6 separate regions of the Homo sapiens genome follow, and all the other regions are reported to be linked to region 2. Evidence: microRNA targets listed by miRTarBase, many of them from high-throughput screens and not tested one by one. Region 2 holds a microRNA gene; each other region holds the end of a gene's coding sequence. Distances are from middle to middle.
What was found. Region 2 holds the annotated microRNA hsa-miR-526b-3p (GAAAGUGCUUCCUUUUAGAGGC, at 2,481-2,502, opposite strand). A microRNA usually pairs through its seed, bases 2 to 8, with sites in the 3' UTR of a target mRNA and lowers its output. Matches are read on the target gene's strand: a 7mer-m8 pairs with bases 2 to 8, a 7mer-A1 pairs with bases 2 to 7 and ends in A, and an 8mer does both.

Region 1 (5,074 bases), not on the chromosome of region 2:
AATTCAGACCATGTTAAGGCAGATAATGACAGGTTTTGGTGAGTTAAGCTATTTTATGTACAGTGATAGCGACTCAGAGCCTACTGGCTCAGTCTCAAATCGAAATATGGAAAGGGCAGAGTCACGGAGTGGAAGAGGAGGTTCTGGTGGTGGTAGTAGTTCTGGTTCCAGTTCGAGTTCCAGTTCCAGTTCGAGTTCCAGTTCCAGTTCAAGTTCCAGTTCCAGTCCTAGTTCCAGTTCCGGTGGTGAAAGTTCAGAAACTAGCTCAGATTTATTTGAAGGCAGTAATGAAGGAAGCTCATCATCAGGCTCATCAGGTGCCAGGCGAGAGGGTCGACATAGGGCCCCAGTCACATTTGATGAAAGTGGCTCTTTGCCCTTCCTTAGCCTGGCTCAGTTTTTCCTCTTAAATGAGGATGATGATGACCAACCTAGAGGACTCACCAAAGAACAGATTGACAACTTGGCAATGAGAAGTTTTGGTGAAAATGATGCATTAAAAACCTGTAGTGTTTGCATTACAGAATATACAGAAGGCAACAAACTTCGTAAACTACCTTGTTCCCATGAGTACCATGTCCACTGCATCGATCGCTGGTTATCTGAGAATTCTACCTGTCCTATTTGTCGCAGAGCAGTCTTAGCTTCTGGTAACAGAGAAAGTGTTGTGTAATTAAGATCTGAACTCTCAGCTATGTAGCTGATATAGTGATGGGCAAACAGGAATCACTTGCTTTTATGTCCACTTTTTGAGTGGTACTTAAATGTAAAGTAACAACCTGAATTGAGTCATTGCTTTCTGAAGGAATCATTGTCCTTTCTCCAGTTTTTGTTCCAGAATAAAAGGAAATATTTTAAAAGCCACGTTATAGGACCTAAAAATCTGATTTCCGTACCAGTTAAATTGGTAGCATCACTGTTACTGATAATTTATCATATACACTTGTCAATTTTTCCTTTGTTATCTTAAAAGATCTGCCTTAGCAATGGCTCCTTTTTCATGTTGATCTTTAAATTTTCCCACACCATAAGAGAGGAGCAAAGGAAATTACCAGTTTAGACTAAGTTACAGTATGTGTTTCATAAGTGATTAAAGCTATATCATTCCCAGTTATTAGTTAACACAAATTCAGCCACATTCTGAGTATTGTTTGTTCACCTTTCAGACTTGGTGATACTGGACATGTCAGTGTAAATAACACTAAGGTTAGGATCTTCTAAGTGTATAACTGTCTCCTAAGCCCATCACTGTGGCACACTGTAGAGTGAGCTTATAGTTTAATTGAGATATTTATCTTGTGGAAATATTAAAAAGCCTATGCTTGTGTAAGTGAAAAAAAATCACATTCATTTGTTTAAAAATGTAAAGCTATTTTGTAGAGGCTCAGTACTTTTCCAATGCACTGTTGTATGAATGCATTAAAAATTGTAAAGTACCATGCTTAGAACTGAGAAAACTGCTTTTTGTGAGCCAACATAGTAACAAACACACCAAACAAAGTACAAAGCTGCTTTTGTAAGTGTGTAGATGTCAAGAGCAGAACATATCTATAATATTTAATGTGTGAACAGCTACTGTGACATGCAAAGGAAAGGACAGTGCAGAATTAAACCGTGTTGAAGACCAGTGGAAATTGTATAATTTAACTTGGATTTAGGCAGGAAGTGAAATATGGGAGGAGTAAAGAAAACTGAAGAATTTAAAGTTTTCCTGAAGACAGTAATAATGCAGACACAAACTGGTTTCATATGGTGAGAGCAGCCACAGCAGCAGCTTGACCTGGTATTCTACCTGAGTAGATGAAGCAGAAGATCAGCAAGTTTGGCAGAGTTTTGGTTTAAGAAAAACAAACCACTACTACCTAGCACAAGTTAAATTTACAAGTCTGCTCCTCAAAAATGAAAAAATGGAGGAAAGAGACTATAAAACCACTTTTAGCATATGAATTGCAGTTGGTACACATGTGTGTGTTAATAGGAAAGTCTCGAATTTGTGTTGTTTTTGAGATTTGTCATTTAAGGTACCAGTGCACACTTGATCATATTTCATTACTATCTCTAACACAGTCCTAACATCTCAAATTTAAAGACCAGTTGAAGATTAAGGGATTTTTATCCTTTGTTGAAAGTCATGTTGGGTTATTTGAAATTCAAATTTTAATTGTGCTGCCCATATATGAAAATGAGACTGCTGACTCGCTATCTATGGACATGCACTTTATGTTGGTTTCTTAGTAGTAAGAGTAACTTCATGATAACCCCAGTCTTCTTGCCTAATTTCTTTTTTGAGACTAGCTGGGGTTAGGATTAGAATGACTATGGAGCAGATATTTGTTCTTCTGGGAAAAGCTTTAACAGGCCAAAATAGGGATTGAACTTGTCCTTGGCCTTTATCAAAGCAAGCTAGCTACCCAGACGTAGTCAAATACTCTACAAAATAAACAAGTCTGCTTTAGGAATTGTCTGGGTACCTTCACTGTTACCAACTTAGCTGTAAAGATTATTTCAAAGCTCACTCTTCCATGATTTCTTCTGGCTTTCAATCCTATCTAAGTATCAAGGAAATTAACTTGTAAATATGGTAGTTGTTTACTAAGGATATGTACTGCTCTTGCAAGGAAATAATGTCCAAACAAAGCTTCACTTATTTTTTTTAATATAAGCAGATTTCACTGTTTATGGCGCTTATGTAATACATTTTATCTTTTTAAAAATTTGTCCGTGTAAAAGTCAGGATTCCTTTATATTTGTGAGCCTCCTTTTCTCCTTTCCTAAGGATGTAATCTACAGTTTTCAGATCTGCAGGGTAGTCTTGATTGGCTAAAAACAAATCAATTTTCTTCTTGGCATAAAGTGTTTCATTATTATAGGGGTGTTCATTTTAAATAGTTTAAAAACAATTGCAGCACATTCTAAGCATAAGAGAAAGTTATTGACAACAGGTACCTTCCTAATCTCCCAAGACGTACTTACTCATTTGTGAAGTATTAAAGTAAGAGGTAACTCAAGCAGAATGCTGGCTATGAATGTAGATATTGAAGCTATTCATAAACACTGGAAATAGAATTTTAAGCTTTTAGCCTTCAGTGGAATGCACATATTGGACATGTGCATGTGAACACCTTTTTCAGTAGCACTCACGGATTTCCATTCGATTGTATAGAATGAATACAAGTGTTTTAGTGGAATTTGCTACTTAATTTTTAATCTTGCGATGTCCGTGATTATTACATGCTTACTAGTGTTGTGGACATTGAAGACAAGGTCATTCGTAGGTGTCAGATTACAATGGAGAACAAAAATCGTTTTCCCCCCACCCACATCCAAACACCATTCTCGAGGGAGCATTTCTTGCAAAACACCTTACATTTCATTTTCTATCTTTGCACTTTTTCTTAAGTACAGAAAAGTTGTCTTTAAGACCTAGTTTGAACTTCATGCAGTAAGAGGAACAAGGATAAACAATGTTGGGAGTTCACATTGTTCAGAGCATAAGGAAAAGTACCAAAACCCAAATTTTCTTGAATATTTCAGATGTTTTTAAAAACTCACTTCTAGTCTGAAACATTTGAATTGTTTTAACTCTGAGCAGCTGACAAAGTTGAGGTTTTTTTGTTTTGTTTTGTTTTGTTTTGTTTTTTTGAGACAGAGTCTTACTTGGTTGCCCAGGATGAAGTGCAATGGAGCGATCTCGGCTCACTGCAACCTCTGCCTCCTGGGTTCAAGCAATTCTCCTGTCTCAGCCTCTCGAGTAGCTGGGATTACAGGCGCATGCCACCACACCTGGCTAGTTTTTATATTTTTAGTAGAGATGGGGACTTCACCGTGTTGGCCAGGCTGGTCTTGAACTCCTGACCTCAAGTGATGTGCCTGCCTCGGCCTCCGAAAATGCTGGGATTACAGGCGTGAGCCACCATGTCCAGCCAAAGTTGAGGTTTATTAGTACTATTAGAAACAAAATTGAGCAAGTTAAGTTAAAAGTTTGCTGACTTTGTATCAACACTATAGAAGATGAGCCACCTTGTTAATTTGGAATATTTGCTCTGAAAAGAACATGTTAGTTACACCTTAATGGTGTTAATGGAGGTGGGGATTGAGAAAAGTGTTCACATTAGTGTTGGAATGTAGGTAATTGTACAGTTTATAAGACCTTTAGCACCAGGAAATAAAATATGTGTGTGTACACACACAGTTTTTAAAAACGATTGGAATTCATCCAAACCTTAAGATTAGGAAACTGATTGGCTGTAAGTGTTGCCTCAAGTAATGTGTCCCCCGCCCCATAACATGTCTTTTCTGTGCCAAGTATCCTCTCCTAGTGTCAGTGTCTCAAATTATATTTATGAAGGGTTATCACATAATATGCTTTGTATTTAACTACCTGCTTCCCAGGCGTCCATGACATGAAATGGGTGAAGCATCAGCCATGACTTTCGGTCAGTTCCCAAAATACCCAAATGATAGGGAGGTAAAGATTGCAAAATTCCTCTTAAAAGGCCATTTTTACAGCTTGCTAAAATACAGTGGCACCTTATGGTTGTTAATATTTTTTCTTTTAAAGATGGAGAATGTTTTTATTCTTCCCCTTTTCTCCTTTGTTCTTTTGCGAACAAAAAAAATTATAATCTGCCTTATTTGATTTTTTTTTTAAGTTTTACCTTACAGGCTTCCCTGTCACATGTTTTACCATATTAAGTACATAGAAGCCATGTTTGCAGGGCACTTTTATTCTCCTAGTCTTATAAGACTATGCTAATTGTTACTTTCTGAAGTATTCTGTACCTTAGTATGCAAGATTGTTAAGGCACATGTTAAAGTGTCAGGTGTGTTTTTTTCCCTTTAATTCTTCAGTATGTTTATATTCAATAACAGTATTGTAATTCATTGAGTTAACTAGTAAATTGTGTGCTTTTGAAAAAACATGAAAAATGTAAATTGACAGCATACTTCATTTGGAAAAAAGTAAAAGATCCGAGGAACTAGTATGTCACTTATTTATTTTTATTTTATTTTATTTTTTACTTTTTGAGACAGGGTCTTGCTCTGTCACCCAGGCTGGAGTGCAGTGGCATGG
Region 2 (5,075 bases):
CCAGGCCCTGTCTCATAAAAATTAAAACAAAATACACAAACAAAAACAACTCCAAAGTGATATAAGAGTGTTCTCTGTGTATAGAAGACTATTTTGTGTGTATGGAATTATACACAGAACATTGTGATGAAATATACTCATTTTTTTTTGAGACCCTGTATAAAAAAAAACCAAAGTTCCATATACTATATGCTCACATAAAGCATAATTCCCACATATTGGTGCTTTGACAGCACACACAAATGAATGGGGTGACAGAGATTTCCATAGCCCCCGCACATAGGTGACACCCAAATTCATAATGGGTCCCATATTCAAAATTAGGAAAAAAGGCTGAGTGCAGTGGCTCATACCTGTAATCCCAGCACTTCGGGAGGCCTACGTCGGCAAATCACCTGAGGTCAGGATTCAAGAATGGCCTGGCTAACATGGTGAAACTGTGTCTAAAATACATATATATATATAGCTGGTATGGGGGTACATGTCTGCAATCCCAGCTACTTGGAAGGCTGAGGTTGCAGTGAGCTGAGATCACACCACTGCAGTCCAGCCTGGGAGACACAGAGAGGCTCTTTCTCCAAAAAAAAAAAAAAGAGAATTGCTTGAGTCCAGGAGGCAGAGGTTGCAGTGAGCCAAGATCACACTAATGTACTCCATCTCGGGTGACAGAGCAAGACTGTCTCAAATAGTCAAAGACAGAAAAAAAGAACAGGTCTCGCTCTCTTCTTGATTGTGTATGGGCTCACTTAAGGTCAGGAGTTGGAGACTGGGCTGGCCAACATGTTGAAACCCTGTCTCTACAAAAAAAAAAAAAACGAACAAACAAAAAAAACACAAAAATTAGCCGGGCGTGGTGGTGTGCGCCTGTGATCCCAGCTACTCGGGAGGATGAGGCAGGAGAATTGCTTGAACGTGGGATTGTGCCACTGACCTCCAGCCTGATGGACGGAGTAAGACTCTGTTTCAAAAATCGATGAGTAAATAAATAAATAATAAAAATACAAAAATTAGCTGGGTATGGTGGCTCATGTCTGCGATCTCAGCTACTAGGGAGGCTGACTCAGGAGAGAATGGCTTGAATCTGGGAGGTGGAGGGTACAGGGAGCGAAGTTCCTGCCACTGCACTCCAGCCTGGGTCACAGAGCAAGACTCCATCTCAAAAAAGAGGACCGCTGGGCACAATGGCCCACGCCTGTAATCCCAGCACTTTGGGAGGCTGAGGTGGGTGGATCTTGAGGTCAGTAGTTTGAGACCAGCCTGGCCAACGTGGTGAAACCCTGTCTCTACTAAAAATACAAAAATTAGCTGGAAGTGGTGGCAGGCACCTGTAGTCCCAGCTACTTGGGAGGCTGGGGCAGAAGAATTGCTTGAACTCAGGAGGTGAGCTTGCACACAAGATCGCGCCATTGCACTCTCGTCTGGGTCACAGAGCAAGACTCCGCCTCAAAAAAAAAAAAAAAAAAAAGAGGACCGTTTGAGCCTAAAAGATCTACGTTGGAAGTGCTACCCTACTCCAGCCTGGGCAAGAGAGACTCTGTCTTAGAAAAAAAAACAAAATAAAAACAGAATCCCACCATCATCCAAGTCTGATGATAAGCATGCTCTGCAAATGTATTACCAAGATCAGCATCAACTTCACTGTTGCTTTCCTCAAACAGTAAACCTCTAAAAGGATGCACTTTCTTTTCTTTCAGACAACAGAAAGCGCTTCCCTCTAGAGGGTCACAGCATGGGATCTTCTTGCTCCAGCACCCTGGGTTTTTTGTAGAAATTTTCCTTGACCAGGTTAAAATAGAGACAAAAATAAAGACCTATTTATTGGCTCTGTTTGCATGTTTTCTGGAATCCAGAACATAGACCCCTAAAAAGACCATCTCCCGTTCCTTCCTACAAAGGCTCAGCAGGTTAGCCTTGTTCATCAAGGGGAAATCCTCCTGAGTTTTGTGTCCAGAAAGAAAAAGCAATGCCTACTATGCATACCTTATATTTAACCAAGAGAATTGGGCTGGATTTCTAGAGAACAGCAGTGGATTTTCAGCCAAGTGTTCACTTGATTTCCAGCACAGGGACACACAGTCCTGATTAGAGCAGTCAAAATGGAATCTACCATGTTGAAGAATATACATTGTTGCACACACAAACATCCTCCAGGATAGACTACAAGGGAGGCCTTAAAAGCTCCTAAAGAAACCCTGTCTCTACTAAAAATACAAAATTAGCCAGGCATGGTGGCGCAGTCCTATAATCCCAGCTACTTGGGAGGCTGAGGCAGAAGAATCACTTGAACCCGGGAGGCGGAGGTTGTGGTGAGCCAAGATTGTGCCACTGCACTTCAGCCTGGGCAACAGAGACCCAGTCTTAGATAAAAAAACAAAAGAAAAACAAAACCCCAACATCATCCAAGTCTGATTATAAGCGTGCTCTGCAAAGATATTACAAAGATCAGCATCAACTACAACGTTGCTTTTCTCAGACAGTAAGCCTCTAAAAGGAAGCACTTTCTCTTCTTTCAGACAACAGAAAGTGCTTCCCTCAAGAGGGTCACAGCCTGACATCTTCTTGCTCTGATGCCGTGGATTTTTTCCTGGAATTTTCTTTGACCAAGTTAAAATAGACACAAAAATAAAGATGCATTTATTGACCCTGTATGCATGTTTTATGGAATCCAGAATATAAAACTCTATAAGGACCATCTCCAGTTCCTTGCTTCAAAGAATCAGCAGGTTAGCCTTGTTCATCAAGGGGCAATCCTCCTGAGTTTTGTCCCCAAAGAGAAAAAGCAATGCCTACTACACGTACCTTTAACCGAGAAAATTGGGCAGGATTTCTGGAGAACAGCAATGGATTTTAAGCCAAGTGTTCACTCGAGTTCCAGTACAGGACCCACAGTCACGAAGGGAGCATCCAAAATGGAGTCTACGATGTTGAAGAATATACACTGTCATATGCACAAACACTCTCCAGAGTAGATCACAGGCTAGGATGTAAAAACTACTCAATAAAATTTGAGCAGAAATACACAAGTACAAGTGGGGCCCAGTGGCTCAGACCTCTAACTCCTCGAACTTTAGGAGGCCCAGGCAGGAGGATCACCTGCCTCAGGAGCTCGAGACCAGCCCCGGCAACATGGCGAGACCCCATGTGTACAAAAATTACAGAAGTTAGCCAGGTGTGGTGGTGCATGCCTGTAGAGACTAATTCAGCAGGCTTAGGTGGGAGGTGGAGGTTGCAGTAAGCCGAGATTGCACCACCACACTCCATCTTGGGTGACAGAGGCAGATATTGTCTCAGAAAAGAACCACACACACACGCACACACACGCACACGCACACACACCCTAGGTGATATCGGAGTATTCTCTGTGTTTAGAAGAGTATTTTGTGTGTACATAATATATAAGAATATAAAATGAAATATACATCATGTATTTTTGAGACCCTGTCTCAAAGAAAGTTCCAAATATTGCATGCTTATAGGAAGAATAATTCCTATACATAACTGCTTGCTTTGGAAGTACACATAAAAAAATTTAAATGACATAGAATATCCTGGCCACTGCACAAAGGCGACACCCAAGTCCATGCTGGTCCCATATTCACCTAATTATTTTTATTTTTATTTATTTATTTATTTAGAGACAGAGTCTCACACTGTTGCCCAGGCAGGAGTGTAACGGTGTGATCTCTGCTCGCTGTAACCTCCGCCTCCCAGATTCATGTGATTCTCCTGCCTCAGCCTCCCGAGTAGCTGGGATTACAGGTGAGTGCCACCACACCCGGCTAATTTTTGTATTTTTAGTAGAGACGGGGTTTCACCATGCTGGCCAGACTGGTCTCGAACAACTGACCTCAGGTGATCCTCCTGTCTCAGCCTCCCAAAGTGCTAGAATTACTGGTGGAAGTCACCATACCCAGACTAGTCCCATATTTAAAATTAGGAAAAAGCAAAAGATGCCCACACCTCAACAGCAATGTTCGAGTACATCTCAAATACATTGCACATCCCATCTGCAAGGGACGCTGAGGTCCCCTTCAATTCTACGTGAACCCACGTGAGGTTCTATAAACCAGTGCCCGAATAATTTCTACGTAGGAAAAGTTGTTGATAGCCGGGCGTGTTGGCTCACACCTGTATTCACAGCACTTTGTGAGGCTGAGGCAGGTGGACCAACTGAGGTCAGGAGTTCCAGACCAACCTGGCCAACATGGCAAAACCCTGTCTCTATTAAAAATACAAAAATTAGCCGGGCGTGGTGGTGCACGGTTGTAGTCCTAGCGACACGTGAGGCTGAGGCAAGAGAATCGCTTGAACCCGGGAGGCAGTGGTTGCAGTGAGCTGAGATCACACCATTGCACTCCAGCCTGGGTGACAGAGCGAGACTCTGTCTCAAAAAAAAATAATAATAATAAAATAAATAAATAAATAAATAAATAAATAAAAGGTGTTGAGGACTGGAAGAACATGCATCGCTCACTATGGCAACAAGAAGAGCTGCTGTGCATTCCACCTGTTACGAGGGAGCCCCTTCTAGGGTCCTCAAGATTTTTGTGAAAACAACTGGTTTTGTTGCATGCTACATTTATCACTGTGACTGAGATTCATCTTGTCTACAACAGTTTCTTATATTAGCCACAGCTAATATAAGACACATTTGACATCTTAGCAAGTAACTGGCATTTAGATGCAAGGTTTAAGCCCATTGGAATGGTACCTTGGAATCGTTACCCAAAGAAAATAGGATAAACATGGCAGCTACAGTCAAAGAACTCACTGGGGTTGGCATTAGTGGGTGAGGGTTGAATCAACTACACCCTTCCTGCAGAGAAAGCAGGTCTATTCCGAGAAATGATGGCAAGATGTTGGGGAAAAACAAATTTCAGTGTTACGGACAAGCAGATTACACTAAAAAGACACGAGTGAACAGGAACAAAAAGAAATTGTATCAATACGGACACCCACTGGGGATTACAGAATAGACTGGATGGACTTGGAGGATTACCCACTCTCTTAATGAAGGAACCATGGTTTGGATTGATTATACTAAATTGATGGGAGGCCATTGTATGACATGACCA
Region 3 (5,075 bases), 19 Mb from region 2:
GTCCTTCAGACCTTTGTTCAAATGTCACCTCCTTGGCAGGCCACAGTGGTTCACGTATGTAATCCCAGGACTTTGGGAGGCTGAGGCAGGTGGATCCCTTGAGGCCAGGAGTTCAAGACCAGCTTGGCCAACATGGTGAAACCCTGTCTTTACTAAAAATACAAAAATTAGCTGGGCTTGGTGGCACATGCCTGTCATCCCAGCTACTCGGGAGGCTGAGGCGGGAGAATCGCTTGAATCCAGGAGGTGGGGGTTGCAGTGAGCTGAGATTGTGCCACTGCATTCCAGCCTGGGTGACACAGCAAGACTCTGTCTCAAAAAAAAAAAAAAAAAGTAACCTCCTCATTGAAGCCCCAGTAGCCATCCCTGTGAGGATGAGCCCAGCTCCTGGGCCTCCATGCCTCCTTCCTGGCCTTATTTCCCTTTGTAGGACTTAACACCCTCCCACTTAGCACCTTCATACATTTGATTTTGTAATTTTTCTCCTTGTTGGTCTTTCCCCATAGAAAGACAACTCTGCCAGGGCAGGGATTTTTTTCTTTGTCCTCAACTGTGTTCTTAGTGCCTGAATGAATGAATAAGTGAGATACAAAATAATGGGAGTTTCCAAACGGCTCATCTGTGAGCCTGTGTGGGAAGGGCCTCTCGCAGGGCCCCAGCACTGGCTGTTCTCGGTGTGTTTCTCCATCATTTGTTTATGGAGTTGCCTTTGAGTTTCCCGAGGGGCAGGGTTGATCAATCTGGTTCCCCAGCCCCACAACACACGATAAGAATCAATATCACTCTAGCTCGTGACTGAATCATTTCCTTCACCCACAGGTGGCAAGTGCAGGCAGCTGTCCCGGTTATGCCGGAATCGTTGCAGGTGAGTCCATCAGAAACAGGAGCTGACAACCTGCTGGGCACCCGAAGACCAAGCCCCCTGCCAGCTCACCGTGCCCAGCCTCCTGCATCCCCTCGAAGAGCCTGGCCAGAGAGGGAAGACACAGATGATGAAGCTGGAGCCAGGGCTGCCGGTCCGAGTCTCCTACCTCCCCCAACCCTGCCCGCCCCTGAAGGCTACCTGGCGCCTTGGGGGCTGTCCCTCAAGTTATCTCCTCTGCTAAGACAAAAAGTAAAGCACTGTGGTCTTTGCCCCAGGATCTCTGATCATTTGGGACAGGGGAGTGGAAAGAGGAGGCAGGGGCTGCCTCAGGGCCCTCAAGGAATAAAGCAAAGGCCGGACGTGGTGGCCCACACCTATAACCCCAGCACTTTGGGAGGCTAAGGCGGGAGGATCACTTGAGGCCAGTAGTTCAAGACTAGTCTGGGCAACATAGTGAGACCTTGACTCTACAAAAAATAAAAATATTAGCTGGGCATGGTGGTGCGTGCCTAGAGTCCCAGCTACTCAGGAGGCTGAGGCAGGAGAACTGCTTGAGCCCAGGAGGTCGAGACTGTAGTGAGCTGTGATTGCACCACTATATTCCTGCCTGGGTGACAGAGTGAGATCCTGTTTCTAAAAAAGAAAAATATAACAAGCCAAGGCAGGGAATAAAGTTAGGGAAGCCAGTCTAGTGTGTGGCAGACAGGATGGCGGTGGGCGGTTGCAGGTGAGTCTGTGTGCTGGGTGACTGGCCAGAGAGAGAGTCAGGGCTGGCTTCTGCCTGCAGTCAGTTTGAGAACACTGGCGTGGTCCCCATAAGGGAGCAGGTACCCAGTGTCAGCTCACCCCTAACATTTTTAAGGGTTTGGAGGTCCCAGATCACAGGGATCCCCTCTCCTTCCTACTTCTAGTCCCTTCCCACACCGGGAGGGGCCTTGCACACATGAGTGTGGATGCCACAGCCTGCACCTCCAAGCTCTATCCACAGCCCCCAATACACAAATGGCCACCCTCCAGGGCACTTCTTGGCTTAGGAATGTGTCCACCAAGAAGGCCCTGCAGGCCCCAGCATGGGCGCAGAGCAATTTGGGAGAGGAATTCAGGGGTCCTAGGGATCTAGAACATGGTCGAGAAGAGCATAGGTGCTGGTGGGCACTTCCTGAAGGCCCTTGGGCTCGACCAGATTAGGCCAGAGCAGGTCCCCTGAAGTGCAGGACTTAGACCAGAGCTCTACTCAGGCTTAAGGGTCGTGCCAAAATCAAGAGACAAGGTCCCGGTCACAGGGCTTACATAACAGTGTTTCACAACTTCAGGTCATAGCCCATTCATGGGTTACTAAATCAGTTTAGTGGGCTCTGAGTAGCATAAGAAAAAAGAGAGAAAGAAAGAATAATTTTTAAAAGACATTAGTATATCACTAATAAATGTAAGATTGTATATATATAATATACATAGCATGTCATATACATCATATGCAATATAATTATATATAATGTATAGAATATGACAATTATAACATATATAATTGTTATTAATGCATCACTATAAATGTTATTACTGCATCACTAATCTCAAATATAAGACTGTATATATAATATGTAGCATGTTATATACATTATATATGTATGCATATCTTCATTATAATATGTATATTATACACATACAGGGGGATACTAAAATTATTTCATTATTTGCACCTACCACATAAAGCAGAACAGATGTCTAACTGATCAGGAGGGGATGTCATCTAGATATGAGTATACATTTACATATACAATGGATTATGTCTTTTTTTTTCTCTTTTTTTTTTTTAGATGGACTCTTGCTCTGTCACCCAAGCTGGACTGCAGTGGAGTGATCTCAGCTCACTGCAACCTCTGCTTCCCAGGTTCAAGCGATTCTCCTGCCTCAGCCTCCCAAGCAGCTGAGATCACAGGCGCCCGCCACCACGCCTGGCTAATTTTTGTATTTTTAGTAGAGATGGGGTTTCGCCATGTCGGCCAGGCTTGTCTCGAACTCCTGACTTCAGGTGATCCGCCCGCCTCAGCCTCCCAAAGTGCTGGGATTACAGGTGTGAGCCACCATGCCCAGCCTGATTATATATATTAAGTTGAATAATTTGAAAATGTCAATATTCAAATGTGTTTGACCTATAAAACTAGCAATGTCATATGGCTCAACCTAACAGTATACATGATAGTGTGATATGAAATGCATTTCATACTGCAGGTTGCTTTTTGAAAACGTTGAGAAGCACTGGGCAGTGGGGGACATAGGTTGTGGCAGGGAAGATAAATTTCCGGTTAGAACAGGAAATGCTGGCAGCTATTTTTGCCTGCTGGCTGGGTGGTGGCCACACCAGTGTGTGCAAGATGTTTCTAGTACGATAGTTCTCAAACTTCAATCATCACATATTCCCAACTTATGACATATTTTCACCCCATCTGTACTATTATTCTCTCTTTTAAAAGATCAACTCCCTTTTTAGTTTAAACATATTTATTTTAAAAGCCACAATCATGTATGGAAAATCAGTACTGCTTGATATAGATAGAAGATAGCTATAAAGATAAATCCAAGGCCAGGCGCAGTGGCTCACGCCTGTAATCTCAGCACTTTGGGAGGGAGACCGAGGTGGGTAGATTATTTGGGGTCAGGAGTAAGAGACCAGCCTGGCCAAGATGGTGAAACCCTGTCTCTACTATATAAAAATACAAAAATTAGCTGGGCGTGGTATCGCACGCCTGTAGTCCCAGCTACCCAGGAAGCTGAAGCACAAAAATTGCTCGAACTCAGGAGGCAGAGGCTGCCGTTAGCTGAGATCGTGTCACTGCACTCCAGCCTGGGTGACAGAGTGAGACTCTGTCAAATAAATAAATAAATCCAGTGAAAAGAAATGAAGATGTTATGTTGCATTCTAGCTGGGTCTGGAGTTTCTTGCAGAGGGCTGTGAACCAGAGGCCTGGGTCTGTGGTGTTGGAGGGAGACCCTCAAATATCAGGGAGGTGATCTTCACGCTGCTGCCCAAAGAAACTGCAGGGTTTGGGAGTTTCTTTGGAACTCTCAGCTCTGACTGTGAGTCTCACTTCTGACACCAGCTGCGGGTTTGAGGGTTCCCGAGGGTTTGACAATTCACTACAAGGACTCACGGAACTCACCGAATGCTCTCAGACTCACAGTTAGGGTTTATTATAGTGAAAGGAAACAGATGAAAGCCAGCCGAGGACAGAGACACATGCGGAAGCATCCAGGAATGTCCCAAGTGCAAAGCTTCCAGCTGTCTCCTCCCAGCGCTGTCTTCTGCGGGCACCCATGTGGGACAGTACACGCAGAGTGTTGCCAATCAGGGAAACCCACTCGAGCCTTGGCGTCCAGAGTTTTTACTGGGGCTCAGTCACATAGACGTAATTGACCACACGTGTGGCCGACATTAGTTTCCAGCCCCTCCAGGGGTGGAGCTGATACTGTGTGGCCCACATTCCTCAATGGAAATCACACTGTTAGAAATGATCTGGTGTGGCCCTAGGTCCCTATGTAAATAGAGACACTCTTATCAGGCAGAACATTCCAAGGGCTTAGAGATTACCTTCCAACAGCAAGGCCAGAAGTCAGCCCTTTGGGGTAAAATTAATTCCTTACTATAGAGACTTTCTCCCTCATCTCATTTGATGGATTAAGAGATATTCAAGGCCGGGCGCTGTGGCTCATGCCTGTAATCCCAGCACTTTGGGAGGCCGAGGCAGGTGGATGACCTGAGGTCAGAAGTTCGAGACCAGCATGGCCAACATGGTGAAACCCCATCTCTACTAAAAATACAAAAAATAGCCAAGCATGGTGGTGCATGCTGTAGTCCAGCTACTCAGGAGGCTGAGGCAGGATAATCGCTTGAACCCAAGAGGTGGAGCTTTCAGTGAGCCGAGATCACACCACTGCACTCCAGCCTGGGTGACAGAGTGAGACTCCATCTCAAAAACAAACAAACAAAACATAAGAGATATTCAAAGGTGATTTACTTTCTGACCATGTGACTCAACATGATTTTACCTTGTTTGGGGCCTAAAGCCATGTTGTGTGCTACCACGTCAGTTCAGGAGAATACCTGACAGCTTCCTTGCGCAGAATAGAGGCGGTACTAACTCAAGGGGGGATGAGTGGGGTTGGCCCTCGGTGTTCTCTCGCCACTCATTCTATCTTCCATGGGGTCGGGATG
Region 4 (5,075 bases), not on the chromosome of region 2:
GTCTAAATTAAATCCCTGGACACAATTCTGACATCTGTGTCACCTTCAGGGAAAGTCGATTCTACCCCACCAGTGCTGCAACCCGACTCAGTTGTTACATATTTTCAATAAGTCAAAATACATAGAAAAGCTGGGTAAATCTATCAAATTTCTTAACAATGAACACAACATGGCTTCTGGGCTTGGCAAAGACAATGGAATGTGCATAAGATTACATAACCCAGATACAATTCTTCTGATTACTGGATACTTTTTCCCGTGCCCATTGGCCACTCCAACCACCAATGAGTTTCTGTCAATTAAGATCTCCTGCTCATAAAAAAAAAAAAAAAAGAAAAAAAAAGTAACATAGATGAATTTATTTCCAAACAGCTATATCATATGTTTCTTCAAAATGCCAGTGTCTCTGAAGACCAAATGTGGGTTGCAAAGAGGATTACCCAGATCCTCATATGGAATACTCACCCATTCAGTCTAGGGGTACAAATATATTGTGTCCTTAACTCCAACTTCTTTGGAAACAAACAAACAATAACAACAACAACGAAACACCAGAGGCAAAGATATAGGGCAGATCCCTAGCACAATGCAAGTTTTTAGAAGCTTTTCTTATTCTACTTTAAAACTCAATGTAAAAATCATCCCTTTACCAAAACAAAACAACAATACAGATAAGAGCTAAATTACAATTTAGGGATTAGGAGATAAGAAGAGAAGCAGGTTCTCTAAATCTGCTTTAGAATTCTCTTTCAAATCTGTCATAGTCTTGAAGCAAGAATAAGAAAACAGAATAATTTCCCTTTCCCCACTTTAGACAAGTAAATTTATAAAAAACTTTTTTAGAGGTGAGGTCTCACTATATTGCCCAGGCTGGTCTCAAGTGATTCTCCTGCCTCAGCCTCCCAAGTATCTGGGACTACAGGTATAAGCCACAGCAACCAGCTTATTCCAGTAGATTAAATGCTAATGTCTTTACCTATTTCTCACAAAACAAAACTTACAGCCTCAGCAGAGAGTACTTTTAAGTCCATTTTTATTTTGTAGGACTTGTGATAGACACAGTCATAGTAATGTATACAGATTACCAACATGCATTCAAGTAAGACCAGGAGAGAAAAGATGAGAAGTAGAGCTGAAACTTCTCTAAAATTTGGAGTAAGAGCTCTTTTCCATTCTACATTCTCCTGGCTTCTTCCTGCTAGACTTCTCTGAAGGGATCTTGCTTTAGAAACTAAAGGATGCTGAAGCCCTTGCTTGCCAAATTCCAATTTCTCATGTCCTATCTGAGGATAAGACCACCTCAGCTCCTCTTCTGGAGAAAGCGAACTAGCACAGGTGAGAGTGGGGAAATAACAGCAGGCTGAGAGCCAGAATGAACATCCCAGTGACCTGTCTCTAATGCTGGGTTAATGACAGGTTAACACAATGCTAGCTTGTTAGAGAAGTCCCCTTTTGCTAAGAGTGGGTACAGTGTTAATCCAAAGTCTGTGGATCAAAGTGCTCCCTCTTCTCATTCATTAGGTCTGAATTACTCTTACCTCACAGCAGAAGAAAAGACTGAATGCCCATTTGGGCTACAGATGCCACCATCCAAGCAAATGTGGACAATGCAACCTTGTAAAAGTGCCAAACACGCCTCCCCAACCATATCTCATTCTCACACTGGTGGTGGTGGGGGCATCCCCATCCCCCAACCCCTGTAGTCTCATAGCCATAGGACAACAGAAAAGTCAGGAGAAGCGATGTGATGGTTGAACACTTCTAGACTCAGACTGTTGCTATATTGCAAATGTCCATTTGTTATAAATTACATGTCCTGTCTCTTAAAATAACCTTCCTCTGGACAAGGACCTTTTCTTCTACTTCTGTTTAGCTTTCCCCTATCCCTGCCCCTACCAGCCCAAAGCTCCACAAAGACACTAAGTACATGTTATGTAACCACTAAACAGGAATAGCAGGTTACTTAACATCTTGGACACAATTTTGAGAAGAATCTAGGTAAGCAGCCTTTAGAAGCTGCCTATGGTATCCTACTTGGGACATACGAGTAAAGGACCCGGGGTCAGGAGTCAGTTGCCAGTGATGACAACCTTTATCATCCTGGCAGGGTCTGCACCTCTCTCCAGGGTGCTTAAAATCCCCAGCTGCTCTCTAGAGACAATTATTTAATTCAGTGATTTGTTCCACATCACTCAGCAATGTAAAGGGTTAAAGATGGGACTAGAACCTAGAATAACCCTCTAAAACACAGCAGCCTGCCTTCCAGGGGGTTATATCATTTAACATTATGATCTGCTCAAACATCAAACCCAAAGAACTGTCCTTTCAGGACTATGAGGAATTCAGAATTCCTAGGCTGACACTTTTGTCTGAGAAACTACTATCCAGTATTTTTCCACCTAACTTCCTAAGGTGGAGTTCTTAACCCGAGCTATGAATCAGAATCATCCGGGAAGCTACTTAAATACATGCATGTCCAGACCCAGATCCCAGAGATTCTGAGTCAGTATTAAGCATAAGGTGGACACAGGCATGTTTATGATTCAACAATCCTAAAGGCAATTCTAAGGAATACTCCTGGATGAGAACCACAGCAAAAAGTCTTCCATTACCAAATGAAAACACCCTTGGAAAATAGCTAACTCCTTCTCACTGGTTACCTCTAAAAGACCAGCAGATAACTTTAAGGTGGGGAGTCACCTATCTCTTTTTAAAATCCCATGAGAACCCTAAACTTGCCTCTCAGAAAAACATACATATATTCGTACATTTTGCATGCAAAATTGGGAAAGAGAATAAGCCATCATGGTCATCAAGGGGCTAAGAATTTCTTCCCTAAACATTTTCTGTTTAACCCTACAAAGAAAATGAAATGACAGAAGTGAATAGAGAAATACAAACAGTTACGAGCTAGATCCCACAGGGTTCCAAGGACTTCTCTGGACATCAAGATGAGATAGTTTCTCTTTATGAACAAAAGAATACTCCAATGAGAGAGATTAAATTCATCATCAAGCTTTTCCACATTTGGGAAAAAAATGGTCATGTAAAAACTATTTTGTTTTGATGTTTCTTTCTTCTTAAGGACAGTGTGCTGAAATTATTCAAAAATAAGCAGTTTTAGTGAACTCTTCTCTGCCTCTTGCCTTGAGCAACTCAAACATCAGTGGTGACTCCTGAATCTAACTGCCCTTCTAAACAGCCCCAGAGGATACTGGCTTTGGCAGGAAAAGTTGCTGTGATTGGCAAAGAACCTGAGAGTCATGGGAGAAAAGACATGACTGCTCTCTAAGAGCCCTGCAAGAGCTAGAGCCCACCCTACTCTCCTAAACCCCACTCTGCAGACCTCAAAAGACCCAGGCCTGACTCTAAATTAAAAATAAAAACCAAGACATTTCCCACATGCTCAGAGCCAGATTCTCCCAGGGCATCGAAGACTTAGAACTGTTTCTCATGAAAGGAGGCAAGAACTCTCACCCTATGTCTACTTGCAAGCTCCAGAATATTCTGTGGATGTCCTGTAGTCTGGGCTGGCCCTTACAGGACCTGGCTGGAGAGGAAGGGAGAAAGGAAAGGAAAGACTCCTCCAGTCCAGATCCATTTAGACCCACTGCAGAAAGCATTAACTGGGCCAGACTTGTCTCTTGTCAATCACCCCTTCCTTCCTAGACAGACACCACAATGCCATGCATTACACTGGACAATCCAGAGGGGACATGAAAGTGGGGGAAGAAAGCAGTCAAGTAAGGAGTGTGAGGAAAACACACATTGAAGAGACAAAAGTGAAGGAAAAATAGACTTTTTGTCCCCCGACTGCTCACCCGCCCTCCATCCCCCAACACTTCACCAACATGAGGACATTAGTGAAGACACCAGGGAACAGAGAGAAGATCCAAGAGTGTGGGGCATGCTCAGCCCCAAGGGAGTGTATCTTTTTCCTCCTCCTCCAGATCATCCCATCTGAGAATCTGTCCTAAAAGACTCAATTTGCTAACTTGCCCCTGGGTGAAAAGATGTTTCAAACTGAAGAACAGCTTAAGTTGTCCTATAAACACATAACCTCATGTTCTGTGTTAAGATTAATGGTGAAGTGTCAGGGGTGGGCATAGAGGGAGGAAGTTAATGACTCCTTGGTGATTAGTGACAAGGGCAGGAGGCCAGGGCTGGAGGGAAACACACAGTTACACCACCGGAATGCTGACTTGGGTCTTCGGCTAGTCGGCCCCTTCTTGCATGTCCTGGGCACGGAGAGGGCTGAGGGGCTTGAGGGGCCGGCTCCCAACACTGTAATTTCTTGGACGCCTTATTGTATTCGAACTGGACAGAGGCGTAAAGCTGTTCCTTCTCATCCTTACAGGGGTTTGGTTCTTGGGGAAGTTGTTCTGATTGGAAATGGAGTGACACCACACAAATGAAAGCCAAGCCAAAAGCTCACTCATACAGGTTAATAATGCGCTTGTAACCACAACAGCTTCCCTCACTCCTGCTCCTCTGCACACAGGGTCCCTCACAGGGCATGGCCCATGGCCTGGCCTCCTAGCATCAGGGGGCTAAAAGGGAGAAGCTCCTTGAGCATAACATTCCAAAGCAGGAAAAAGACCCAAAGAAAGGAAGGGGCTTATTGAAGACCACACAGATTACCAGTGACAGACCTAGGAACAAACCTACACCTCTTGACCCCCACCTTATAGGCTCCTCTGGACTCTGCTTTCTAAAGGGACACTTGGGGTTGGAGGGGGGTAGTAATTTGCATTTCACTTCAGCCAAACACTTTCCATATTTAATTGGATTTCCAGGAGCCAACATTCAAGGTTAAGACTCATGAAAGGGGTACTAATTTAAAAAAAAAATAATTCCAACATCAGTTTCAGACGTAGCAAACTACATTTGGACGTAAGTTCTGAATCTGTTTCCCTTTTGTACATAAAAGAAACCCCAGTCTCTTGATGTCAAAGCTTCAGAGACTCAAGGTGGCAGGGAAACTGGTGTGTTCATCGTGGGAAAATACTTACAGTTGGCTTGTCACGGTGCGTGTTCACAGCCTCCACGTTAAGTTTAATTGTTTCCACTTTGCA
Region 5 (5,075 bases), not on the chromosome of region 2:
GTAGATCACATATTAATACTTTATATAAATCACTGTAATCTTTACCACTCCTTGCTTTATATTTTATTTCTCTTAATAAAATCTAACTGATGGGTCTTATGTCATTTTACATCACAAATTTTCTGTTAGAGATTAACAGTTACTGAGATTTGAACATTAATATTACAGATTCTAATTCCTTATTTATGATTCTGAAATCCAGAAAGTTCAAAAAGCTGAAAGTGTTTTCATACATTTGTAGCAATTCAAACTTGCACTGAGCTGCTGTGATACCATTTATATTTTTTATTCATCCCACTTATATTTGATTATGGGGCACTGCTCCAGATCCATTATATACAATGTACATAACGTATTATCTCTGAGAAGTAACAAATCTCAATTCCAAAAATACATCTCCTGTTAAGAGTTTTAGAAAATGGATTACGGAGCTGCAAGAAGATTTATTAAACCTTGATGTTGCCAAGCCAACATAATCTAAAGGAGCACCAACTTCCTATTGTTTTAGAAGCAATTCTGACCTCCTTTTCTGTTTAAAAAATCTAGGTCTAAAAGTCGTTTTGGTCAAGGGCGTCCTGCATAAAGTACCTTAAAATATAAGTAAAAAGAGAGAAGGCACTCTTCTGGACATCTGAAATTGCTCACTTCTTGAAGATCTTCAGAACAATGACTTCCAACTGTTTTATGTTATTATTATTTTAATCCACATAAATCATAATTCTAAAAGAAATGCATAGTTAGGTTTTATGAAAATCTAATTGTAAATATGAAACTTTTTAAATCTGATTTTCTTCTAATATCATTCTAGGCTATGTAGAAAGCAATTATTTACAAATTTGCATAGTTGAGACTCCCAGTGTTTTCCTTTATTTATTTGAAAAAGAAAGGCCTAAACTGTCAGGTAGCCAAGTTTTTTTAAGACCTTAAAAGTTAGGGGAACACAACTGGTAGTGTTACCATGCATGGCACTGATTGTAGTATGTCTTTGGAGCTGTAAATCTTGAGATAGCATTGAGAACTGCAGGTTGTGTGACGAAATTCCCAATGATGCTAATTTTAAGTCTGCATGAATATTAAGGAGTGACAGGTCTCAAGACTGCATTAAATGAAGTTTCAGGGTAAGGTATTTCAGTACTGTGTTGGGCAGAAGGGTTAATTTTTTTCAGCATTATATCGTGGAAAGTACAATGTTAATCCAACTTTTTTTTCTTTCAGTTTTTAATGCTTATCTATTGATCATCTGAGCTGGAATTACTGATTATTACTCTGTCCTCTGTGAAACTAGTGGCATTCTGAATTTGGTAAAATAACCATTGATAGTTTTAGGATAGTAAATCATTTCTGTTATATGAGACACCCACTGTACAGTTCTCAGGGCTCTAAAACCCAACCATATTTCTGTAACCATTCAAATAACTCCTTAAAACAGTTATACTTGCTAGTTCGGTCTAAAATTTTCCAAATACATTAGATAGGTGAAAATTTGCATATATTCAAGAAAAATCAAAATAAAATTCTATTTTATAAATCATGTTTAAATTTTTCTAGCCAGGCAGAAAGAGTGCTCAGGGAAAATTTGTTCCAAACTATAACCATATAATAAATTATGTGTTTGTAAATTATATGTAGGTCTCTGAAAAACTTTAAGATGCACTGTTTCTATTTTTTTAAGTCTTAATTTGCCTTATAACTGACATTTCTTCAAATTATTCAGAGAACAGACTTTAATAATGTGTGACAAAAGAGCAATTTCCATTGAAATATTGAAGTGTTACACTCAGTTTACACGTACAGAAATCATTCTTTTTAGTGAGTCTTTTAGTTGATAAATGAAGCTAGATGTTATTTGATAACTGGCTTTGCCAAGGTTTTTGAACTGCTGTTTAGAAATTTTGTTCCCATTTATATTTGTTTCAATTGTTTGATACTGTGGAAATAGACTTTTATTTTCGAAAGAAAATGTCTTGTAGTACATATTATATGTAAGTACTCTGTTAAATACCAGAGTTTTTTTTGTAGTTTACTGTGTTTTCTGATTAAAGGATTTGGATTTGTACATGTAAACAGTGCTGTAATGGTCACGACTAGATAAGGAAAAAATATATATGCTCTTTTGATTTTTAACTGATGGTAAAAAGGCAAACTGCTTCTCCCCTGGGAGGCCTATACCACTGAATTAATTTTTACAAACCAGAGTTTATCAGAATTTGATTCTCTTCAGAATGCTTTTGGCCAGGTGTAGTGGCTCACGCCAGTAATCCCAGCACTTTGGGAGGCCGAGGCGGGCAGATCACCTGAGGTCAGGAGTTTGAGACCAGCCTGGCCAACGTGGTGAAACCCTATCTCTACTAAAAATACAAAAAGATTAGCCAGGCATGGTGGCATACACCTGTAGTCCCAGCTACTCGGGAGGCTGAGGCACAAGAATTGTTTGAACCCGGGTGGCAGAGGTTGCAGTGAGCTGAGATCATGTTTCTGCGCTCCTAGCCTGGGTGACAGAGCAAGACTCCATCTCAATTTAAAACAAAAAAAGAATGTGTTTTTAATTTTGTTAATGTTTGTCTGTTATACATAGCACTGGTACCGCAAACATTTTACTTAAACTCTTAATAGCATTTCTTTCGCCAGATACTTTAATATTTCACCTTACATTAATCCTGGATTCACATTTCTTTAATTGAAATAAATGTTAATGACAAAAGTTGTTTGGAAAGTCTCTTTATCTGAATTATTCCATCTTCTCAGAAAAAAAGTCTGGAGTAGCTCTAGATTCCACAGGTTTTCATGGAAAATTATCTCTGCTACAAGGTGAAATTTTTGAGTTTTAAGATTATTTTAGGCCAGGCACAGTGGCTTACGTCTGCAATCCCAGCACTTTTGGAGGCCAAGGCAGGAGGATTGCTTGAGCCCAGGAGTTCAAGATCAGCCTGGGCAACATAGTGAGACCTCGTCTCTACAAAAATAAAAATTAAAAAAATTAACCTGGCATGGTGGCACACACCTGTGGTCCCAGCTATTAGGGAGGCTGAGGTGGAAGAATTGCTTGAGCCTGAGAGTGCAAGGCTTCAGTGAGCCATGATTGTGCCACTGCACTCCAGCCTGTGCAGCAGAACAAGACCCTATCAAAAAAAAAAAAAAAGATTATTTTAAATGAGGTTATGCTGGTAAAGATTTATTAAACATTTAAGGGTTAAAATATTTCAGAAAAGATGATCTGATAACAATGCTGATTGTACACAATTGCATTTATTTGTTACTTTCCTTCTTCACAATACTCAGCCAGGTACTGTGAGATGTGCTTATTGCTTTGGAAGCTGAGGCTGAAGCTCTGTCAAGCTTGTCTACTAAAGGCACGTTATAATATAAAAAGAAACCAAAAAAAATGTATTTTGTGTTTAATTCCTGGAATTAATTCTGCAGCCAACCTTCAGCTATTCACTGAGCAACTGTGTCACACTTCTCAGGACTGGGATAGCTAGCCAGTTTAATTCTAATAGGCTAACTCTCTTTCTCCTATTTAAAGCTGATCTATTGGGGAAGATGGTACAAGAATAATATTATTCCACCCTTATAAGATTTTGGGGCAATTAAATAAGTTAATAGATCTAAAACAACTAGCACAGTACTTTCTGGCCTATAGTAAGCCCTCCATAAATGTTTGCTATTATTGTTGCATTGTTATGTTAACATGTGGAAGGTAGCCTAAATTCTTTGAGAGTTTCATATCCCTTTTCCTGTAACTTGAGTTAAGACTGTGTATGTGTGTGCGTATATGTATTTAGTGCAAGAAAGGAGGCACCTAATACTTTTCGTGGTTTCTATGGCATCATTTGAAACTTACAAGCAAATCATATCAAATGTCTTATTTAGGCAAAGTAAGTGGCATTTGTAGAAAGAGCTAGGTAAAGAATACTGTTTCCTGATACGTGGTAGGGAACTATGTGGTAGGGAGCTATGCTGTTTTCAAAGAGGCTTCAACTGAAGGACAGTAAGTGAAGGCCATAGCAAAGTCTAACAGCAGCTCTCTTTCTAAGATGTATCTTTCCTTGAGAAAATATAGCCAGTTTGCTTCTTACTATTTGTTCATGAACACAGCCAATTCTTACCAAACTGAAGGTGATGGTCCTAGTAGTTGCTATTTGTTGAATGCTTTGGTTATGCTAAAGATCATGCTCCTGATACATTCCTTATCTCCTTTAGCCTCACAACGCCCGCCCCCGCCACCAAATTGGGCATTATCCTCATTTTACAGGTGGAAGAGAACATTCAGTGAGGCATAGTAAACTACATACTGGGGTTGGAATCTGGGTCTATCAATACATTCCAACACCTTCTTGAAATAGTTTTCCCTTGGGTTGCCTGAAAATTTTCTCTTAGAGGCCTCCTGCCTCACTGGCAGCTTCTTCAGACTGAAAGCAGGCAACTCGAGTGCACTTTCGGTAGTTTCAGGCTTGTTTACTCAACTGCTTAACATTTGTACTTGGAGTACCAGTAGGTATCTCCAACTTAATTAACATAATCAAAACAGAACTTGTGATATCTCTTCCCATTCCTGCCCCCAAACTCCCTGCTTATTCAAACCCATTCTTTTCCAATTCAGTAAATGGCATTATTGCCTACCGAAGTGCACAAGGCAAATATCTAGAAAGTATTCCTTATTCTTCTCTTTTCTTCACATCTGACATTCAATTTATCAGCAAGTCCCATACGTACTCCACATCCATTTGCTTCTATCTCCACTATCACCACCCCCAGTTATTAACATCTTTTTCATGAAGTACTACAAATGCCTCATAAGTAATTCCCCAGCTTCCATTTCAACTTCTGTATAACTTGTGCTCAAAGCGACGTTCGTGATTTTTCGATGTGGCTCAGATCACATCACTCCCCTGCTTAACACTAATAGCATCCCATCAAACCTAGAATAAAATCCAACCTTCAGGCCGGACGCGGTGGCTCACGCCTGTAATCCCAGCACTTTGGGAGGCCAAGGTGGCCAGATCACGAGGTCAGGAGTTTGAGACCAGCCTGACCAACATGGCAAAACCCCATCTCTGTTAAAAAATAGAAAAATT
Region 6 (5,075 bases), not on the chromosome of region 2:
TTGACCTGACTTTAGAACCTGACCTCAAGGATATGGCAGCGCTAGCCTTTAGCTCCCACAGCACGGATGGGGGTGATGCCAGTTAGAAGTGGGTAGTGAACGTTTGCTGAGCTGTTCACTGTTTCTCTCTTCTCTTTGGAAGCACCTCTCCGAGCCATGTGAGCCCCCTGATGCCACCGAGCAGGGGCAGCTTCATGACCGATGTCTGGCTGAGGCTGTGGCGGACACTCTCGGGGTTGTCTGCAGGAGAGCAAGCCAGGAGGACATGGGCCTGGACGACACGGCCTCGCAGCAAAGTGTGTCAGACGAGCAGTGACGGGCGTGCGGCCGGGCGGGGAGGCTGGCTCCCCCACACCTCCCACCTGCATTGCTCTCCCTCGTGCTCCCCAAATCACCACAACCAACCAATACCGCGATCCATGAGGGACTCCTCCTGTGGAAAAGGAGAGCTGTTCCAGAACACAGAACTGATCTCAGGTTTTTGAAAAAAAAAAAAAAAAAAAAAAAAAAATCAAACAACAACAACAAAAAAACCTCACATGATGGGGAAACAAAAAAAAGCAACAAAGAAGCCACACCACACCTCCCTGGCCAGGCACAGCGCTGCCCAGAGCGGCACACCGCGGACAGCACCACACATGTTCCAGAATCTGAAATCTCAAAAGCCATTCACTAACTTAAAACAACTCAACAGAGCCATGAAACAAATGCCCTGATGAAAATAAGACAACTGCATGTTACATCATCGGCACTTTATACATTACTGTTACCATGAAAAAGAAATGAACAGCAGCACGTCTGATACCATCAGCTGGGCAGATGCATTAAGGTTAAATCTAAGTGTCAAGAAAACCCTATTTCTTTATAATATTTATGCAGCTGTTAAGCGTAACATGGTGGCAGCTTCACAACAAGAACCGTGATCATGCATGCAGTCATGTCTCCAGTATTCTGTGAAAAGCCAGGATACGTTAGGATGTGAGTTTAGAAACTGAGTCCATTCGGTGCATGGAAATCCACCGCGGAGTCACACAATGCTCCTCACTGTAGTCCAGGCGATTGGTGGGCCGCCAGCACCCTGCGGGCTTCACAGGGACGCGTGCTTGTTCTCCAAGCCCCGCAACCCTTACTGTGCACACAACATCGCACACACCTTTGTTTTTGAAATTAAAATGTTTATAGTTATTGCTGCGTCCAGTGTTTTGAGTTATACTGAAGCTTCTCATTTCTACAAGTATATCTTTTATGGTGAGAACGACATTTGGGTAAATTCTGAGACAACTTTTCCCATCTTCAAGACCCCAGGAACCTGTATCCTTGCTGGGGTAGAGGTCCCAAAATGCAGTCCATAGAGTATCACTGGCCTGGTGAACCATCCCTTTTCAAAAGACAATAGTTAGAAGGAAATACTCAATTTTAAACAGTCACACAAATTTCTTCAAAGTATTTAGGATTTGGAAATTTGAGGAGAGGGTTGGGGGAAGGGTATTGTAGAGAATCTCTTGCCCCTTGGAAAGTAAATGGTAATGCTTTTCTAATTTTTTTTTTTGTAAACTAAGAATCAGCAATTAATAAAAGCAAGTGTACTCTATAATCACAGACAGAAGGTTCTTATTTTCAGGTCAGCACTCCCTAGAGGTGCAAACTTTATTTAATTTAAATGCAGTTGTTTGTCTAATGGGAAGCTGATAGGGCCTTGCTGCAGTTCTCTAAGGTGGCCAAATTAAACTTGGCTGGCAGCTCCTGTAATCCTCTTGGGCAACTTTACAGCCAAGCCCCAAGGGCTAAATGGCAGGCCTGGAGCTGTGAGTGTGGCCTCCCCACGGAGGGTGACTCCTTGAGTTCAGTGAGGAAAACCACGGTGCCTGGCAGTGGTCAGCCAGGAGTATGACTGGCCACTCCTTAGGCATCCAGAAGTAGGAAACACAGAAAGCATTCCACAAAACGGGGAATCTCCCCAAAGAGCTAGAAACCCAGGCTGGAAGGAAATGGCAGCGCAGGCAAGAGAGCAAGAGCACCCTGGGTGCTCCTCCATCCCGTTTCTCTGGGGAGGTTCATGAGGTGCTTCTTCAACAGTTATTCTGTTCATTGCTTATCACAGTTCACGAGTTCTCGTGGCATCTTTTGTGGGGAGGAGGGAGGATGAAAGTGACACAGTGTATCTACAACACTAAGGTCACATTAATCAGATAGGAATGCAGTGACGCTCTGCACCGTCTATGAGAGCGGGCATCTCGAGTGTGCATACCGAGGCACAGATGTGCACACACATCCGCAGGCAACTGCACCCACAGAGAAAAGGTGGCAGTATTGGAGTCACCCCAGGATTCTTGGGGGCTGTTTGACCAGCCATCAACAGTGCAGCCATACTTCTTTTTCTTTTTTATCGTGGTACACAACTTTTATATTTACAACTCATGAACTTGTTAATCTGGTCCTTCATCTAGTCAGCTATGTATCAGAAAGGACTTCCTGCAAAATGTTATATTCTAAGCCCCCATTTAGAGGAGGCATCCCTAAACTGACATTTCTTGCTAGAGTTGTTCAAATATTCTGCCAGTATATAGCTAAAGAGTTATTTTCCAGTTCAAGAGTTATTTGGGGGCTGGGCACGGTGGCTCACGCCTGTAATCCCAGCACTTTTGTAGGCTGAGGCAGGCAAATCATGAGGTCAGGAGTTCGAGACCAGCTTGGCCAACATGGTGAAACCCCGTCTCTACTAAAAATACAAAAAATTAGCTGGGCGTGGTGGCGGGTGCCTGTAATCCCAGCTACTCAGGAGGTTGAGGCAGGAGAATCGCTTGAACCCAGGAGGCGGAGGTTACAGTGAGCCGAGATAGCACCACTGCACTCCAGCTCAAGCGACAGAGTGAGACTCTGTCTCAAAAAAAAAAAAAAAAAAAAGAGTTATTTGGACACAGATCAAAATGGTTTCTCCTCTAAAGATAATATTAAAACCATAGCACTTGGTTTTATATAAATCATGTGGCCAATTTGGCATTATTGATTCTAAATTTTGCAGTGTGTTGAAATCATCTGGCAAGTAATTTGTTAAAATCATGCGATGCTTCAACTTCTTTGCCCACAAAATGTGCAATGCAATGCCTGTTTACTTAGCCCACCCGTCTCCAGCCTCATCTACCATGCTGTTTTGTCCCAAGTCACTATGCTACACAAGCATCCGCCATCAGCACACACACAGGTGTGATCCACAGACACAACCTTCTATGAATACGGTAATTGGCAGGAAAAGAAGAGGAGCAGGTCTGTTCCACATTTTCCAGCCCACCAGCGTTCCCACCCCCTTGATAACTGGAGGGCTGGGAACTGAGTGCCTGAATTTGCAGCTTTACTAGGATCTCTCCCTGTCAAGGCTGATCATCAGAGATGACACTATCCATTTAAAAGACTCACCCATCTCCCTGCATGTGCTTACCCTCACTGAGAGGTAAGAAGAAACAATTTATTAAACTATTACGTGTTAAGCAGCTGGCGGTATGATCTGCTAAGGAGGAAAAGGAAAGAATGATTTAGTAAATCGTGCTTCAAATCAGTCCTGATTCCTCCCATCCGACCTTGTTATTCTAGCTGAGATTCTTCATATAAGCAATACATGTTAATTCTGTGCTTTTCAAATTGAATTCCTCCCTGAGACTCATATCCAACCATCTGTTAGATATTTTGCTTTGTTTGAATAGGAGGCATTCCAAACTCAGGTATAAGAGAATCCCTGACTTCAATCTGCCCTGCTGCCCCCACCCCACCATCCGGCAAGAGCTCCTCACCTCAGCCGTGGCACCGACAGGGAGGTGGCGCTCAGCTCTGCTCCTCTCATCCTGGCTGCGTGCAGGGAGGGGACGGTCACGTGGAGTTCTGCCACGGCACCTCTTCTTCCTTTAAATCTCAGCATGACACTGTTGCTACAGGCTGTGTGCGTTTGGCCCTGAGTTCTAGTTATCTGTGAATTCATCTTATCCTTCATTAAATGTCATTGCCTTACAATACAGGGATTGCATCTGACATCTCCATACATGCTCCATGATCATTCTGTTTGACTAATACAACAATCATTTCAGGACCTCACCACAAGAGACACTAAACGTTCTTTGGATTTACAGCAGTTTATCACTGCTAAATGTCAACTCTGAGGTCTGGGGGCACAAAACACACTAAAAATGCTAAAGCCTCAAGAAGGACGCAGCAGGGAGTGATGAAAGAGTGAACTTTGGAGCCACGCAGACGTGGGTTCAAATCTCCTTTGTCACCGCTATCACTGTGCTCCTGAACGAACCACTTAAACACTCCAAGCTTGTCTCTTTACCGTTAAAGGGAAAGTGTGCAGAAGCTCCCGCAGCCCCAAGTGCTAGGGGCCACCCTGAATCTGTTCCACACAAGTGCATACTTTCAAGTAGGCAGTGACACTCCCACCCCACATAAGCACAACTGGCTTCAGTGATAAGCCCCTCAGACTAGCTATTTAACTTTGAAATAACCTTCACCAGCTTTCTTTCTCATTTAAGACAAAATCAAAGTCTACAAAACAGACACGGCTGAAACACCAAGCTCAAAAGGACAAGCACCAGAAGGAACATGGCCCTTGGTGTTTCAGATGCATGAAGGGCGGAAACGCAAAACGGCCTCCCGGAGGTGCCAGGAAAGGCTCCATCTTGATGGGGTCCCACTCCAGCTGGGGCTGACCAGCTCCACCACGCCTGGGTGCACATTGATGACATTTCCCCAGCCTGCCTCCCTATCTCTTGGTTCTCCTGAGGGCTGTGGTACTTTCAGATTTACGGCCAGGATCAGGTTCCCAGGCCTTTGTGGGAAGCCTCTACCCAACTCAGAGGCCGTGCCTCTCCTGGCCCACTGAGGCATGCAGCCCACACCGGTGTCCTGGTGATGGTGGCTGGAAGTCACAGCCAGCCTGCCAGACATCCTGAGCTCGGAACTCAGTCTCCCTGAACAGCCCCGCCAGGCAGGGACTGTGGAAGGAGATGCCCACTTCCTCCTCCTGGGCAGGTAGCCCTTTTGAGGGCTTAGTTCATAATCTATTAGGCCTCCCTGTTGTGGTCCCT

Region 1: the mRNA of RLIM is a reported target of hsa-miR-526b-3p. Seed matches in the 3' UTR shown: 8mer at 2,214-2,221, 7mer-m8 at 3,386-3,392 and 7mer-m8 at 4,720-4,726.
Region 3: the mRNA of FXYD5 is a reported target of hsa-miR-526b-3p. The part of its 3' UTR that is shown has no 7-base or 8-base seed match.
Region 4: miRTarBase lists PFKFB2 as a target of hsa-miR-526b-3p. Seed matches in the 3' UTR shown: 7mer-m8 at 1,621-1,627 and 7mer-m8 at 1,495-1,501.
Region 5: miRTarBase lists SANBR as a target of hsa-miR-526b-3p. Seed matches in the 3' UTR shown: 7mer-m8 at 2,264-2,270.
Region 6: miRTarBase lists PCNX2 as a target of hsa-miR-526b-3p. Seed matches in the 3' UTR shown: 8mer at 749-756.

What each region holds. Positions count from the first base shown.
Region 1 is chrX:74,587,039-74,592,112 of GRCh38, reverse strand. RLIM (ring finger protein, LIM domain interacting) reads left to right here. Exons shown (of 4, transcript NM_016120.4): 4 at 1-5,074. The coding sequence ends at 673. Among named protein-coding and RNA genes, the nearest start is that of RLIM, 25 kb to the left of the region's middle.
Region 2 is chr19:53,691,870-53,696,944 of GRCh38, reverse strand. It overlaps MIR526B (microRNA 526b), which reads right to left and starts at 2,552; the gene lies at 2,470-2,552. It overlaps MIR519B (microRNA 519b), which reads right to left and starts at 1,732; the gene lies at 1,652-1,732. It overlaps LOC107985342 (a long non-coding RNA gene), which reads right to left. Exons shown (of 3, transcript XR_007067332.1): 3 at 2,323-2,916.
Region 3 is chr19:35,168,747-35,173,821 of GRCh38, forward strand. FXYD5 (FXYD domain containing ion transport regulator 5) reads left to right here. Exons shown (of 9, transcript NM_014164.6): 9 at 820-1,135. The coding sequence ends at 869. Among named protein-coding and RNA genes, the nearest start is that of FXYD5, 17 kb to the left of the region's middle.
Region 4 is chr1:207,071,511-207,076,585 of GRCh38, reverse strand. PFKFB2 (6-phosphofructo-2-kinase/fructose-2,6-biphosphatase 2) reads right to left here. Exons shown (of 15, transcript NM_006212.2): 14 at 5,013-5,075; 15 at 1-4,382. The coding sequence ends at 4,215. Among named protein-coding and RNA genes, the nearest start is that of C4BPB, 15 kb to the left of the region's middle.
Region 5 is chr2:61,121,580-61,126,654 of GRCh38, forward strand. It overlaps SANBR (SANT and BTB domain regulator of CSR), which reads left to right. Exons shown (of 22, transcript NM_001129993.3): 22 at 547-2,701. The coding sequence ends at 583. Among named protein-coding and RNA genes, the nearest start is that of C2orf74-DT, 21 kb to the right of the region's middle.
Region 6 is chr1:232,979,545-232,984,619 of GRCh38, reverse strand. It overlaps PCNX2 (pecanex 2), which reads left to right. Exons shown (of 34, transcript NM_014801.4): 34 at 143-1,185. The coding sequence ends at 316. It overlaps NTPCR (nucleoside-triphosphatase, cancer-related), which reads right to left. Exons shown (of 5, transcript NM_032324.3): 5 at 738-5,075. Among named protein-coding and RNA genes, the nearest start is that of NTPCR, 31 kb to the right of the region's middle.